Homo sapiens: one gene and its partners. The protein of the gene in region 2 purifies or fractionates together with the protein of the main gene of each other region. This does not show direct contact. Each region holds a gene or a part of one and is shown on either strand. Other genes may lie near its edges.

Evidence for each region. The genes of interacting proteins can lie anywhere in the genome.
Region 1: the proteins of EMID1 (region 2) and PPFIBP1 purify together in Homo sapiens (affinity purification with mass spectrometry; one large-scale study listed by BioGRID and IntAct). This does not show direct contact.
Region 3: the proteins of EMID1 (region 2) and MCM3AP purify together in Homo sapiens (affinity purification with mass spectrometry; one large-scale study listed by BioGRID and IntAct). This does not show direct contact.
Region 4: the proteins of EMID1 (region 2) and RAB32 purify together in Homo sapiens (co-immunoprecipitation; one large-scale study listed by IntAct). This does not show direct contact.

What each region holds. Positions count from the first base shown.
Region 1 is NC_000012.12:27,684,706-27,688,205, reverse strand, and holds part of PPFIBP1 (liprin-beta-1), read right to left. Parts: intron 822-3,500; coding exon 699-821; intron 1-698. UniProt on the Homo sapiens protein: May regulate the disassembly of focal adhesions. Did not bind receptor-like tyrosine phosphatases type 2A.
Region 2 is NC_000022.11:29,250,896-29,254,395, forward strand, and holds part of EMID1 (EMI domain-containing protein 1 isoform 1 precursor), read left to right. Parts: intron 1-3,034; exon of another isoform or gene 3,035-3,195; intron 3,196-3,307; coding exon 3,308-3,392; intron 3,393-3,500.
Region 3 is NC_000021.9:46,237,623-46,240,611, forward strand, and holds part of MCM3AP (germinal-center associated nuclear protein), read right to left. Parts: intron 1-2,989.
Region 4 is NC_000006.12:146,550,333-146,553,832, forward strand, and holds part of RAB32 (ras-related protein Rab-32), read left to right. Parts: intron 1-3,500. UniProt on the Homo sapiens protein: The small GTPases Rab are key regulators of intracellular membrane trafficking, from the formation of transport vesicles to their fusion with membranes.

The DNA of each region.
Region 1 (3,500 bases), on a different chromosome or scaffold from region 2:
TAAATGCAAAAAGAAAGGGAAAAATTCTCTTTTAAAGAATTTCTGTCATAGTTTGAGTTTCAAGCTTTCTTATATACTAATAAAGCATTGCTTTAGGAAAGGAAGTCTTTTTTTTTTTTAAGACAGGGTCTAATTCTCTTACCCACGCTGGCGTTGCAGTGGTATAATCAGGGCTCACTGCAGCCTCCATCTCCCAGGCTCAGACGGATCCTCCTACCTCAGCCTCCTGAGTAGCTGGGACCACCAGCGTGCACCCACCATGCCTGGCTAATTTATTATTATTTTTGTAGAGACAGGGTCTTCCTATGTTGCCCAGGCTGGTCTTGATCTCCTGGGCTCAAGTGATTCTTCTGCCTTGGCCTCCCAAAGTGCTGGGATTATAGGCATTGGCCACTATACTTGGCCAGAAAAGGAAGTCTTTATAGTGATATTTATCTCTGTTGATTAGAGTCAGGAAAAAAAAATACACCCAAGAAAAGGAAGAAGCATAACTGAAAAAGAACCCTTGGCTTTAGTTACACAAGGGGAACCGTCATGGAGAGAAAAGGAAGGAATACAGAAAAAGCCTAAGAAGTAAATGAGGCTGGATTTTAAGGCTTTTCCTGCAGGCTCCAAGAAAAATGGCTCTTAGTTTCGACACATGGACAGTCCCATGCCTGGGAAGTGCATGCTTATAAACCTCAATCTTAAAACACTACCTCATCAGATGGCCGCCTCCGTAGACAGTTTGGTTCAAAGTTATTGATCCTCAGGACCTGGATGGCCCTTTTGATACTGAGATGGTGTAGCACACTTACAACCTTCAGAGACAGTAAGTCATCCTGCAAAAAAGAACAAAAGGAGGAGCTCACTGTGCTGGCCTGTAGCAGGAGGACTTTCTTAGGGAATCTCAGAAAACTGGAGTAAAAGGAGAAGAGCCCCTCAAACCAATATGCCCCAAGGTCTTGTCAGAACCCACTTTCCCATTTGGAACAAAATCTTCCCCCAAACCCCAGATTAGTATTTTTTGCCAATGAAGCTGACTTCCACCTGTTTCTCTCTCTTCCAGATGCTCTGAGATCTGTAGAACCCCAGGGCTCTGAAAAACACAGTTAGAAAAGCACTTGCTGGGTCACTACAAAAGGTGATCTGCTTTGACTTGATCTGCACATACTACAAACAGGGAATTTATTTGTTTCCTCTTTAGTTTTGAGAACTTTATCGGTGGATAAAGTACTTAGGCTTTGGATAAACTGCCCTCTCTGTTTCCTTTCAGCAGATAGTGAAGAGCGAATGATGCTCATTGGTGAACATGATCAAGAGTTGGCTTTCTTTTTTCATCTTTTTTTTTTTTGGAGAGATAGGATCTCACTATACTGCCCAGGCTATCTCAAACTCCTAGGCTCAAGCAGTCCCCCGGCCTCAGCCGCCCAAAAAGCTGGGATTACAGGCGTGAGGCACCGCTCCTAGCAAGGCTGGGTTTTCTGAACTAAGGCACATCATAATTTTGGGGAAAATCAGAACAGTGCTCTTATTATACTATTCCCTGACCTTAATAATTCTCTAGTTCTAAATTATTTTTTAGTAAGGACCTGTCTGCTATTGAATAGCTCTAGATTATTATGGTTTATCTAGCAGACATTGTGAACAATTTTGGCACAACTATAATCAATCAGTGCAAAGGTTTTGGTCAGAGTCAAGGAGAGAAGAAAAATGAAGTTATAAGTATCACATATATATATTACCAATCAACCCCTTCAAGGAAGAATTTTCACCAGTCTGTGGCTCTTGGGAATATTTTCAAATATACCAAACACACCAAAACAAATTATTTCAGAAGAAGGTGATATTGGGAGCAGTATGAAGATAAGCAACAGTCTACTTCCAAACACACCCAGAAAATAAACAAGGAAAGCATCCATTTTAGACACACCTTTCTGATAAAACACTTCTCATGAAAGAAAGAAAAAAATGTAATCTACTACAGAAATATTTAATAAAAATATTAATCAGTTTAAATCCTTGAGGCTACTAACCAGGCAAAAATTATTTCCTGAAGTTTTTCTGGAGTAATTCCTTAAAAGTAGTGTCTTAAGACATGTTAGAAAGAGTACTTATTTTAATCTAGGATTGAGACACCCATTCCAAACATTTCAGTCTGGACTCTTTTCATCTAACTAGTCTGTCAGCTTAAAAAAATATCTGAATGCACAATGTTTACAGTGTGATTAAAATGTTAATTATTTTTGAAATTCTTTATACTTCGAAGGATTTTAAAAAGAAAGTTTTATTTTATATCAAAACAGACTTTCTGAGTGATTTTCTTCCCAATTTTTTTAAAACTTTTTATTTTAAAATAATTTTAAATTTGTGGAGGAGTTGCCAAAGATAGAATAGAATTCTGTATACCTTTCACTCAGCCTCCTCTAATGTTAACATCTGACATAATCATGATTACATTCATCAAGACTAAGAAATTAATGTACAATTGACTAAATTGCAGACTTTATTCACATTTCACCAGTTTGTCCAGTAAGGTCCTTCTTCTGTTCCAGGATCTAATCCACATTAAAACACATATTTTGTGACTTAGGATTTCTGGGGTCAAATTTTCCAGGGTCATTTACTCTTTTATAGCCATTTCACAGATGCTTCTTGTGATTTTAAGCTTGAATTTGTTCACATTCTCAGGGGGAACATACTCACACTTAGAGAGGGAGGCAAATATTTACTGAATGTGTTCTAGTCATAATCGTGAGCTATTAAAAGCAGGGATCTTGAAACAGCCTGAGTTCAAACTCTCTATGACTTTCTATTGCTAACTGTGGAAACTTGGTTACCAAGTTACCCAACCTCTCGATTCCTTCCTTTATACATGTAAAAAAGTAGGGATAATAATAGTATTATAATACTATAGATACACAGAGTGTGTGTGTGTGTGTATATGGATACACACACACATATATACAAACATGCATATATGTGTATGTGTGTGTATATATATATATACATACTCTATGTATCTACAGTATTACATATGTGTGTATAATACTATGTATATACAGTATTACATAATTATATAGTATATATGTGAACAAATTCAAGCTTAAAATCACAAGCAGCGTATGTGAAATGGCTATAAAAGAGTAAATGACCCTGGAAAATTTGACCCCAGAAGTCGTAAGTCACAAAATGTGTGTTTTAATGTAGTGTCCTAGATTAGATCCTGGAACAGAAGGAGGACCTTACTGGAAAAACTGGTGAAATGTGAATAGTCTTCAGTTTAGTTGATTGTATTAACATCTACGTTAATTTCTTAATTTTGATGAATGTAATCATGATTACGTAAGATGTTAACGTTAGAGGAAGCTGAGTGAAAGGTATACAGAATTCTAGCTTTGGCAACTCCTCTGTAAATCTAAAATTATCTTAAAATAAAAAGTTTTAAAAACTTTTTAATATATATTATACACACTATAATAATATTAGTAATATTAACTAAAAGGGTTATTGAGAATCCA
Region 2 (3,500 bases):
GGAATTTTTTAAGATCATCTTTTTTTATTTTTTATTTTTTGAGATAGGGTCTTGCTGTGTTGCCCAGGCTGGAGTGCTATGGCATGATCATGACTCACTGCAGCCTCGACCTCAGGGGCCCAAGCCACCCTCCCACCTCAGCCTCCCAAAGTACTGGAATTACAGGTACACACCACCACGCCTGGCTAATTTTTTAATTTTTTCTTTTTTTGAGACAGGGTCTCTGTCGCCCTGGCTGGAGTGCAGTGGTACGATCTCAGCCCAGTGCAGCCTCAGCCTCCTGGGCATCAATCCTCCCACCTCAGCCTCCCAAGTAGCCAGGACTACAGGCGCACACCACCATGCCTGGCTAATTTTTGTATTTTTAGTAGAGATGGGGTTTCGTCATGTGGGCTAGGCTGGTCTGGAACTCCTGAGCTCAAGCAGTCCACCCACCTCAGCCTCCCAGGGTGCTGGGATTACAGACGTGAGCCACTGCATCTGGCCATTTTTTTTTTTTTTTTAGAGATGGGGTCTCACTATGTTGCCCTGGCTAGGCTCAAGTGATCCTCCCACCTTGGCCACTTAAAGTGCTGGGATTACAGGTGTGAGCCACCATGCCAGCCCCCCCGGCGTTTTTTGAGACATGGTCTTGCTCTGTCACCCATCGTGGAGTGCAGTGGCACAATCATAGCTCACTGTAGCCTCAAACTCTTGTGCTCAAGTGAACCTCCCACCTCAGCCTCCACAGTAGCCAGAACTACAGGTGTGTGCCACCACACCCAAATAATTTTTTTTTCTTTTTTTTGAGATGGAGTCTCCCTCCGTCACCCAGGCTGGAGTACAGTGGTGTGATCTCAGCTCACTGCAACCTCTGCCTCCTGGGTTCAAGTGATTATCCTGCCTCAGCCTCCCAAGTAACTAGGACTATAGGTGCACACCACCAAGCTTGGCTAATTTTTGTATTTTTAGTGGAGATGGGGTTTCACCATGTTGGCCAGGCTGCTTTTGCACTCCTGACCTCAAGTGATCTGCCCACCTTGGCCTCCCAAAGTGTCATTAGGTGCTGGGATTACAGGACAGCTACCGTGCCCACTCTAATTTTTAAATTTTTTGTAGATATGGGGTCTTGCTATGTTGCCCAGGCTGGTCTCAAACTCCTAGCCTCAGGTGATGCTCCCACTTTGGCCTCCCAAAGCACTGAGATTAGAGGTGTAAGTCACTGTGCCTAGCGAAGGTCATTCATTTTTAGATCCTGCCCCTGTAATACTCGAAAGGGGATTACTTTGGCATGCAGCTCGTGGTGACCCTGGGACCCCCAGGCTGAAATGGCCATTCAGCGGCCTGAGGGTCACCCGATCCATGTGATGTGGACAGGACAGCTGGATCACAAGGGTCAGCCCCAGCGAGCAGGCTCACTCATGATGGACATATTGAGAGACCTCTTAGTTGTTTAGATGGTTTTGTGGGAAGCAGCAACCTTAAAGGGTTGGCTTGTAATTATACAATTATGCATATTGTCTATCCCTTCACTTATCTGTACTGAGTAAAGGGCACCAAGAGAGATTTCCAGATGTTGTCAGAGCTGGGATAGTTCTATTTGTCATCCTGGTGCACTGTTGGAATTGAGAGATCTACATTCTGGAAATAGCTTTGGTCTGGACTAGGAAAGAGGAAGGAGTGAGGGAGTGTGGAGCGTTGTCAAGACTATGGACCATATGCTGGGGAAGGAAAGGATGCAGATGGGGAGAAAGAGATGAGGTCTCTGGCATGAGCCCTGGGTAGCAGCTGGTACCACTTGGGGAGTGGGGAGCCCCAGAGCTGGTGGCCTTGGAGGAGGGGCTTTGTGAGCCCAGTGCCACATCCCTGGGGTCTGGGAGCCAGAGACAGGGAGAAGCAGACCCGTACTGCTAAGAGGAGAGGGCTGGGCTGAGGGTGACGCATCAGGATGTGCCAGATTGTGGACCTGGCATAGTCTAAGCCCTGGGAGAGGTGAGCACTGTTTTCCAGGCAGGGAGCCCAAAGCGTGAAGACCTGGGGAAGGGACAGAGTGCTGAGCCTCAGGTTTCTCAGAATTTTAAGCGCAAGTTCTCCAAAAGCAATGTAACTCAAACCTTGTCTAATTTTATTGACATACTGATGGTCCCCAGCTTACGATGGTTCAAATTACAATTTTTCAACTTTACAATTGTGCGAAAGCAATATAGGCTTTCAGTACATTCCTCAACTTACTTCCAAATAAACCCATCGTAAGTTGAAAATATTGTATGTCAAAAATGCACTTTTTTGGCCAGGGATGGTGGCTCACGCCTGTAATCCCAACACTTTGGAAGGCTGAGACAGGAGGATCACTTGAGGCCAGGAGATCGAGGCCAGCCTGGGCAACATAGCAAGACCCTTGTCTCTTAAAAAAAAGAAATGTGTTTGGCTGGGCGCGGTGGCTTACGCCTGTAATCCCAGCCCTTTGGGAGACCGAGGCGGGCAGATCACCTGAGGTCAGGAGTTCCAGACCAGCCTGACCAACATGGAGAAACCCTGTCTCTACTAAAAATACAAAGTTAGCTGGGTGTGGTGGTGCATGCCTGTAATCCCAGCTACTTGGGAGGCTGAGGCAGGAGAATCGCTTGAACCTGGGAGGTGGAGGTTGCGGTGAGCTGAGATCGCGCCATTGCACTCCAACCTGGGCAACAAGAGCAAAACTTCGTCTCAAAAAAAAATGTACTTTTGACTTGTGATATTTTCAACTTACACTGGGTTTATCTGGATGAAATCCCATTGAAAGTCAAGGAACATCTATATATTCATTTGGGCATAAGTGGAAATACTGGTAAGTAGCCTGAACTCACTGATCGGAGTAATTAGGGTGAGGCTAATGTGGTGATTTAAAGCAAAAAGAATGTGAAGTAAATAAGCATATAGGTGGCCAAGAGATATAGTCATGCAGGTGTTGGGAGAGCAACTGGTGCTGGGCGACAGACATTAGAGGACAGGAGGGCTCCCAGCAGCTTCTGGGACTGCCGTTCTGCCCCTGAAGATTGGCTCCCCCTGCCTTCAGCGCAGCAGGATTTGCGGCCTTGTCAGAGAGCAGCCAGCTGGGATCCAACGGGACCTTCTGGGAGGTCCTGCAGGGGTTGCTTCCTTCCGTCTGCCTTGTTGTCCCCCTCCTGTCCTCACCTGGTCTTGTTCTGGCTGTCCATGGACCCTGGGCTGTGGCAGGTAGTGTGGGGCTGCAGGTGCATGTCCCGGGTGGGGCATGGGCCACCGACGGGCTTTGCAGGGTCCCCTCCCCTGCCCCCTTCACGGCTGCATCTGTCTCTTTCCTCCACAGGGGGAGGGGTTGCACCAGCTACGCGAGGCTTTGAAGATTTTAGCTGAGAGGGTTTTAATCTTGGAAACAATGATTGGGCTCTATGGTGAGTAGAGACAGACAGACGGACAGACGGCCCAGCCCCTGCCTGCCAGCCTTCCCCAAGCCCTCCTGGGGTGGAACTGGCCTGAGCCCAGTCATGAGGCTGGAGAAG
Region 3 (2,989 bases), on a different chromosome or scaffold from region 2:
CTGAACTCAAGTGATGTGCACACCTCAGCCTCCCAAAGTGCTGGGATTATAGGCATGAGTCACCACACCCAGCCTTAAGCCTTTGCTTTTTACTAAGAATATAACTAAGTTATGACATCAACTGAGAAGCAGAAATGTACTTATTAAAAATTTAACAACTTCCTATGATAAAGCTTAATTTAAAAAAAAAAACTAGGCTGGGCTCGGTGGCTCATGCCTGTAATCCCAACACTTTGGGAGGCCGAGGCGGGCAGATCACCTGAGGTCAGGAGTTCAAGATCAGCCTGATCAACATGGTGAAACCCCGTCTCTACTAAAAATACAAAAATTAGCCAGGCATGGTGACACGTGCCTGTAATCCCAGCTACTTGGGAGGCTGAGGCAGGAGAACTGCCTGAACCCGGGAGGCGGAGGTTGCAGTGAGCCAGATCACGCCATTGCACTCCAGCCAGGGCAACAAGAGCAAAACTCCATCTCAAAAAAAAAAAAAAAAAAATTAGAGAAACCACTTCCCTTTAATTTATAAATCCAATTCCAATTTATATTTAATGAAAAAGGTGGTATTAATCCAAAAACAACTGCTTCGATGTGTTACTTAACATTACTTGTAATTGTCTTGTTTGGCTTATCTTATTTAATTTACTTTGGTTTTATGCATCTATAATTAATTCTTCTGACATTTTCCAAATGAGTGGATTGCTGCTTATAGCTTAAAATTAACTCAAAATAATATCCCACTGCCACCTAACATACTCTAGAGCTGTCTACTTCCATATACCGGTCTTTTCAAGAAAAACAATCTTGGCCAGGTGCAGTGGCTCATGCCTGTAATCCCAGCACTTTGGGAGGCCAAGGCAGGTGGATCACCTGAGGTCAGGAGTTCAAGACCAGCCTGGCCAACATGGTGAAACTGCGTCTCTACTAAAAATACAAAAATCAGCCAGGCATGGTGATGGGTACCTGTAGTCCCAGCTACTTGGGAGGCTGGGGCAGGAGAACTGCTTGAACCTGGGAGGTGGAGGTTGCAGTGAGTCGAGATTGTGCCACTGCACTCTAGCCTGGGCAACAGAGCGAGACTCTATCTAATAAAAAGGAAAAAAAAATCTCATCCCAAACCACTTAAATTATAGAGACTGATTTTAGTAATCGGACACATTCATTCACCCTTCCAAAACATATTCATTAAGCCTCCTCCAGATGCTAGGCATCATTCTAGGTACAAGGAATATTGCACTGAAACAAAACAGAGGCCCTGCCCTAAGCAATTTATACTTTAGTGAGGAGAGACAGACAAGGAACACATAACAAGAGAAACATGGTTTGAAGATGAGAAAGACAAAGCAGAGCCATGGAAACAAGAAGGTCGGAGATGGGCAAGCAGGGCCTAACAGAAGCAGACATTTGAGTAGAGATCTGAAGTGAGTACAAGATCAGCCATGGGGATGCTGGGGAGAATGGAGGGGCTGGACAGTCCTAGGCAAAAGGAACAGCAAACTCAGAGGCCCAACTGTGAACTGCCTACCATGCTCAAGGAAGGAGCGGAGGTCAGAGAGGAAATGGGGGGCAGATCACTCAGGGCCCTGGCCACCCCTGCAAAGTTTGCCTTTGATTGCAGGTGAAAGAGGGAAACCACTGAGAGGCTGTAAGCAAGCAAGTGACACGACCTCCATCTTAACTCACTTGAAAGGCACCCACCAGGTCTACCAAGACTAAACTGCAGCCTACTGTAATAATCCAGAAGGAAGATGATAGTGGCTTGAGCCACGTGGTGGCCATGGAAGTCATAACAAGTGGTCCAATTCTGAATGTATTTTCAATAGAGCCAATAGGATATGTGAATGGGCTGATGTGAGGGGATGATTCCAAGGCACCTGATCTAGGCAGCTGGAAGGATGGAGCCGCCATCAACAGAGATGACCACCAAAGGAAGGGGTTGGTTGGAAGAAAGCCGGGAACTGGATTTGGGATATGTTAACTTTGCAGTGGCTACCAGACATCCAATAGGTGTCTAATGAAGATTTCAAGGAAGCAGTAGCATGTTCAAGTGTGGAGTTCAGAGGTTTGAGATACAAATTTGGAGCTGTCAGAATAGTGATGTTACTTAAAAATCCATGAAACTGGATGAAATTTCTGAGGAGTAGGTACAGACGATGCAGAGGAGAGGTTGAGAGAATGAATCCAGGGGGCAGCTGGGGGATGAGGAGGAACCAGCAGGGCAGGAGGGGGACCACGGACATCCTAGGAGCAAGGAGGGGAGGATCAAGTATGGGATGCTACCAAGGACTGGGATTCACGGTCATGTTCAACCCTGGGCCTTCATCCCCATGGGAAAGAAGGCTGAAGAAGTGAGTATCACAAGCGTTTTTGAGGAGTTTTACCATTAAGAGGGCAGAAACATGAAGTGGTGGCTAAAGAGGGAAGTGGGACCAAGACAGGGAGGCATGTTTCATGTCTGTGTGCTGCTGATGGGCACCACCTAATATGGGGAGGGGTGGTAGCACGAGAGAGATACTCATTGAATGAATGTCCTTGGGTAGGTGGGAGATGAGATCCCAGCCCAGGGAAGGGCTGACTGACTACGAGCTGCATGGTTCGTTTCCAGCAACAAGAGGCGTCAGGAAGGGGATATAGGGAGGATGCTGGATGTGGCTGGGAGGGCAGGGAAGGCAGAGGACAACCTGTGGAAGGTCCCTTATTCCTGATTCTACTCAGTAAAATGGTAAACATGGCCATCAAATGAAAGCAAAGGAAAGGTATGCATGGGAGGGAGGGAAGTGGGCAATGTAGAGGAGGGGCAGCCCCAGCTCCTGTCCATTCACAGCATGGGATGATCCACCAATGCCTCAGGCTCCCAAGGGCAGGGTGCCTGTGGCCAGCCATAGTGTTCAGCACTCACCATCTTCTGAGCAGACTTAACCACATGAATTTCCCAGAAAAACTTAACACTGACTTTCAATAATAAATAATAAATGAAATTCACTTCAATATA
Region 4 (3,500 bases), on a different chromosome or scaffold from region 2:
CTCAGTTGACTTTCAAAAATCTTAACAGTCTAGTGACCAGGCACGGTGGCTCATGCCTGTAATCCTAGCAGTCTGGGAGGCCGAGGCAGATGGATCGGGCAGATCGCTTGAACTGGGAGTTCGAGACCAGCCTGGGCAACGTGGCGAAACCCTGTCTCTGCCAAAAATACACAAAGTAGCTGAGCATGGTGGTGCATGCCTGTGGTCCTAGCTTCTCGGGAGGCTAAGGCAGGAGGATCACTTGAGTCTGGGAGGCAGAGGTTGCAGTGAGCCGAGATCATGCCACTGCACTCCAGCCTGGGTGACAAAGTGAGACCCCATCTCAAAAAAAAAAAAATCTTAATAGTCTAGATATAGAAAAAAGGTGAAAATTATACATATATAAAATGTTTGGGGGGGGGGTTACGTGCATTGGAACTTTCACATAAGGGGGTTAGTGACAATCAGATTTATGTAAGAATGATGAAATGTTTGAAAAATTCTGTGATGACAGATAAACATTATACCATAAATTTGTTGAAATCATAACACAGTTCTAGCTTTTAGTTTATGTTCTGTGGATTTCTTGTGTGTGTTTACGGGTGTTTTTATATATGTATGTATGTATGATTGTTCCTCCAAATCACCCACCTCATTCTGGATATTTACTAATCAGATTAGGTTTAGCTCTACTAGAAACTTACCCTTAGAGTGAAAAACTACTTGATGCCAATGATGATCTGCGGGATAAAAGCGAAGCAATGAGAGACTGCACAAAAGGAGACCGCTCCAAAAATATTGCGCAATGATGGAGTCACTGGGAAAAAAAAGACTGTCTACTGCAGGCAGAAATGTACACTCCTAAGCTAGAGGCTAATTGTTTGAATAAATATAGCATCTTAAAATTTCCTTTCATAAATAAAACATAGTGATAGAAGAAAGATGAAGCCCAGGAGTGCTATGTGAGCACTTAATCTGACACGAAGGAGAAAATCACAGAAAGAAAGCCTTCTTATAGAGAAGTCACCTCATTCTCCCAAGAAGCTAGGACCACAGGCATGTGCCACCATGCCCAGCTACTTTTTGCATTTTTAGTAGAGACAGAATTTTGCCGTGTTGCCCAGGCTGGACTCAAACTCCTGAGCTGGAGTGATCTGCCTGCCTCAGCCTCCCAAAGCACTAGGATTACAGGCGTGTTCTTCTGGACACTCATGCCCTCTGTCTGCTCTGTATGCCTATTGGGTGATTTGCTCTACTTGCCAGCTTTGCTGTAAAAAGACGAAAAAAAAAAAAGGGGCAGTAAGTATAACTGCTTATGCGAGTGTGCATTTTGGTGGAGGAGTTTTATAAATGATAGACAAAATTCCCCTTTAGGCTCTATTTAATCTTTCAGATAGTAAATCCAGATTTGCCCCCAGATGTAAGACGTCATGTGACTAGTAGCTTGTGACTGTGTAAGTCATCGGTTTCACTTTATGTATGGATAGGATTACACGCAGAGGTGAAAGGTGAAACGCTGGTTAAGAGTACAAGTTTCAAGTTTGCTCTGTGCTTCCATACAAATATAATAGAAGCAGCTTCTGTAGAATTTCCTTAGCAGTAAACCAGACGTGTTCCAAGAGAATAACAGTAATAAAAAAATTTAGGTTAAAAATCTTAGAGTTAAGGCTTAAAGTACTGCCTAAATGTCACTAAGGTACACTTCTGAGCTGGCCTGCAGCTAACTTCAGATCTGACTTTTGCTTGAATTGCAGTCATCCGAATTTCACTAGGAACATAGGCAAAAGATAACTTTTGCAAATAAATTTCATCATTTCACCTTTATGGCAAATAATGGATTTCTAATATGAAACTTTAATAATATTAACATATGGGAATTACATTAACATGTGACTAGTTACACTATCATTGGAATTTTAACCAACTGCTTCCAAATACAGTTAGAGAATTTTATAATTATTTGATATAATGGGGATAGCTGGGACTGAATGTCACTTGGACATTCAAAAGATCAATACTTGAATTAAAGTTAACACTTATCTTGGGAGTGGAGGTAAAAAATAAATAAAAAGCTTGTTTCAGTGCTATGAAAGATGCCTGTAAATAGCACAGCTGTTTTAGGTTTCTTGTTGTCTGAGAAAGGGTTTACAAATAAGGAAAAAGGCTACAATGAACCTCATAGCATTGGATTGGATTAGACATTAATATGAGCTTCAGGTTTCATATGTGTGTGTGTGTAAGAGTATATGCATATATATATGTGAGTGTGTATAGATATATGTATGTACACACACATATGTGTAAACAGATAAAGAAGTTGATACAGATGCATGTGTGTATACATACGTTTATTTACTAGCCATACCTGCTGAGAGGGCTTAAAAGGAATGACACCACAGAACCAATTAACTTACCTCGTGCTCAAAATTCGGTTTTTAAATATCATTCTCCAGTAAAAAGAATGGGAATCTCTAGAGAAATGCCTGATTTTAGGACGGGTGGAACAAGTCAAGTAAAGATGTGCCTGAGATATTTTGTTGTGCAAGAAACTAAGGAAATGCTTACAAAATGATGGGGACATGTGACAAAGATACAGGATACTGCCATACAAGCTCCAAACATGTAAGACAATTTGAGCAACAAACTAAATAATTACTGTAATGGGTTCAACTTATAGAGTAAACTAATAATCCATGATAAAAATGAACAAATGAATAAAGAAATGGGGGAGAAGGGAACCTCTTTCTTTTTTTATTTTTATTTTTTTATTATACTTTTAAGTTTTAGGGTACATGTGCACAACGTGCAGGTTAGTCACGTATGTATACATGTGTGGAACCTCTTTCTAACAGTAGAATTCCAGCTAATAAATGTAGAAGGAATGGCAGAAATAAAAAAGTCACCATTAAACACCACAGTGATGATTGTTGTAGGGAGGAATTAATTGATGATAACATTAGTGGGGAAAAGTGCGGTGAGAAACAGGATATTTACATATTTGCACTAAGTACAAAGGGAAAAATAATAACTTTTCTGTGGAGAAACATGGCAAAAACAACTTGAAGCAGTGTGCTTCCTGATAAACTGTGCAGGGTACATCACTTGTGTTTTATTTCTGCCAAAAATACATACGTTGAATTTAATGATAAGGAAACATCGAACATCACAGATGGAGGTATATTCACCGGCCAGTGCTCTCTGAGAGTGTCAAGGTCATGAAAAGCAAGGAGAGTGAGGAACTGTTCGAGAGTAAAAGAGACCAGGGCGACAACAGTGAAATATAGCTTATGATCCTGGATCTGAAATAGGGCATTGAGATAATTGATGCAATTTGAGTAAGCTTTTTAGGCTAGCACTGATACAACACTATTATGTAATTTCCTGATTTTGATAGTTGTATTCTGGTTATCTAAGATGTTAACATTTGAGAAATATGTGTGAATGGTAGGAATGTTTACTTTTTTTGCAATGTTTTTGTAAATCCAAAATTATTTAAAAATGAACAGTTAAATATATTTAAA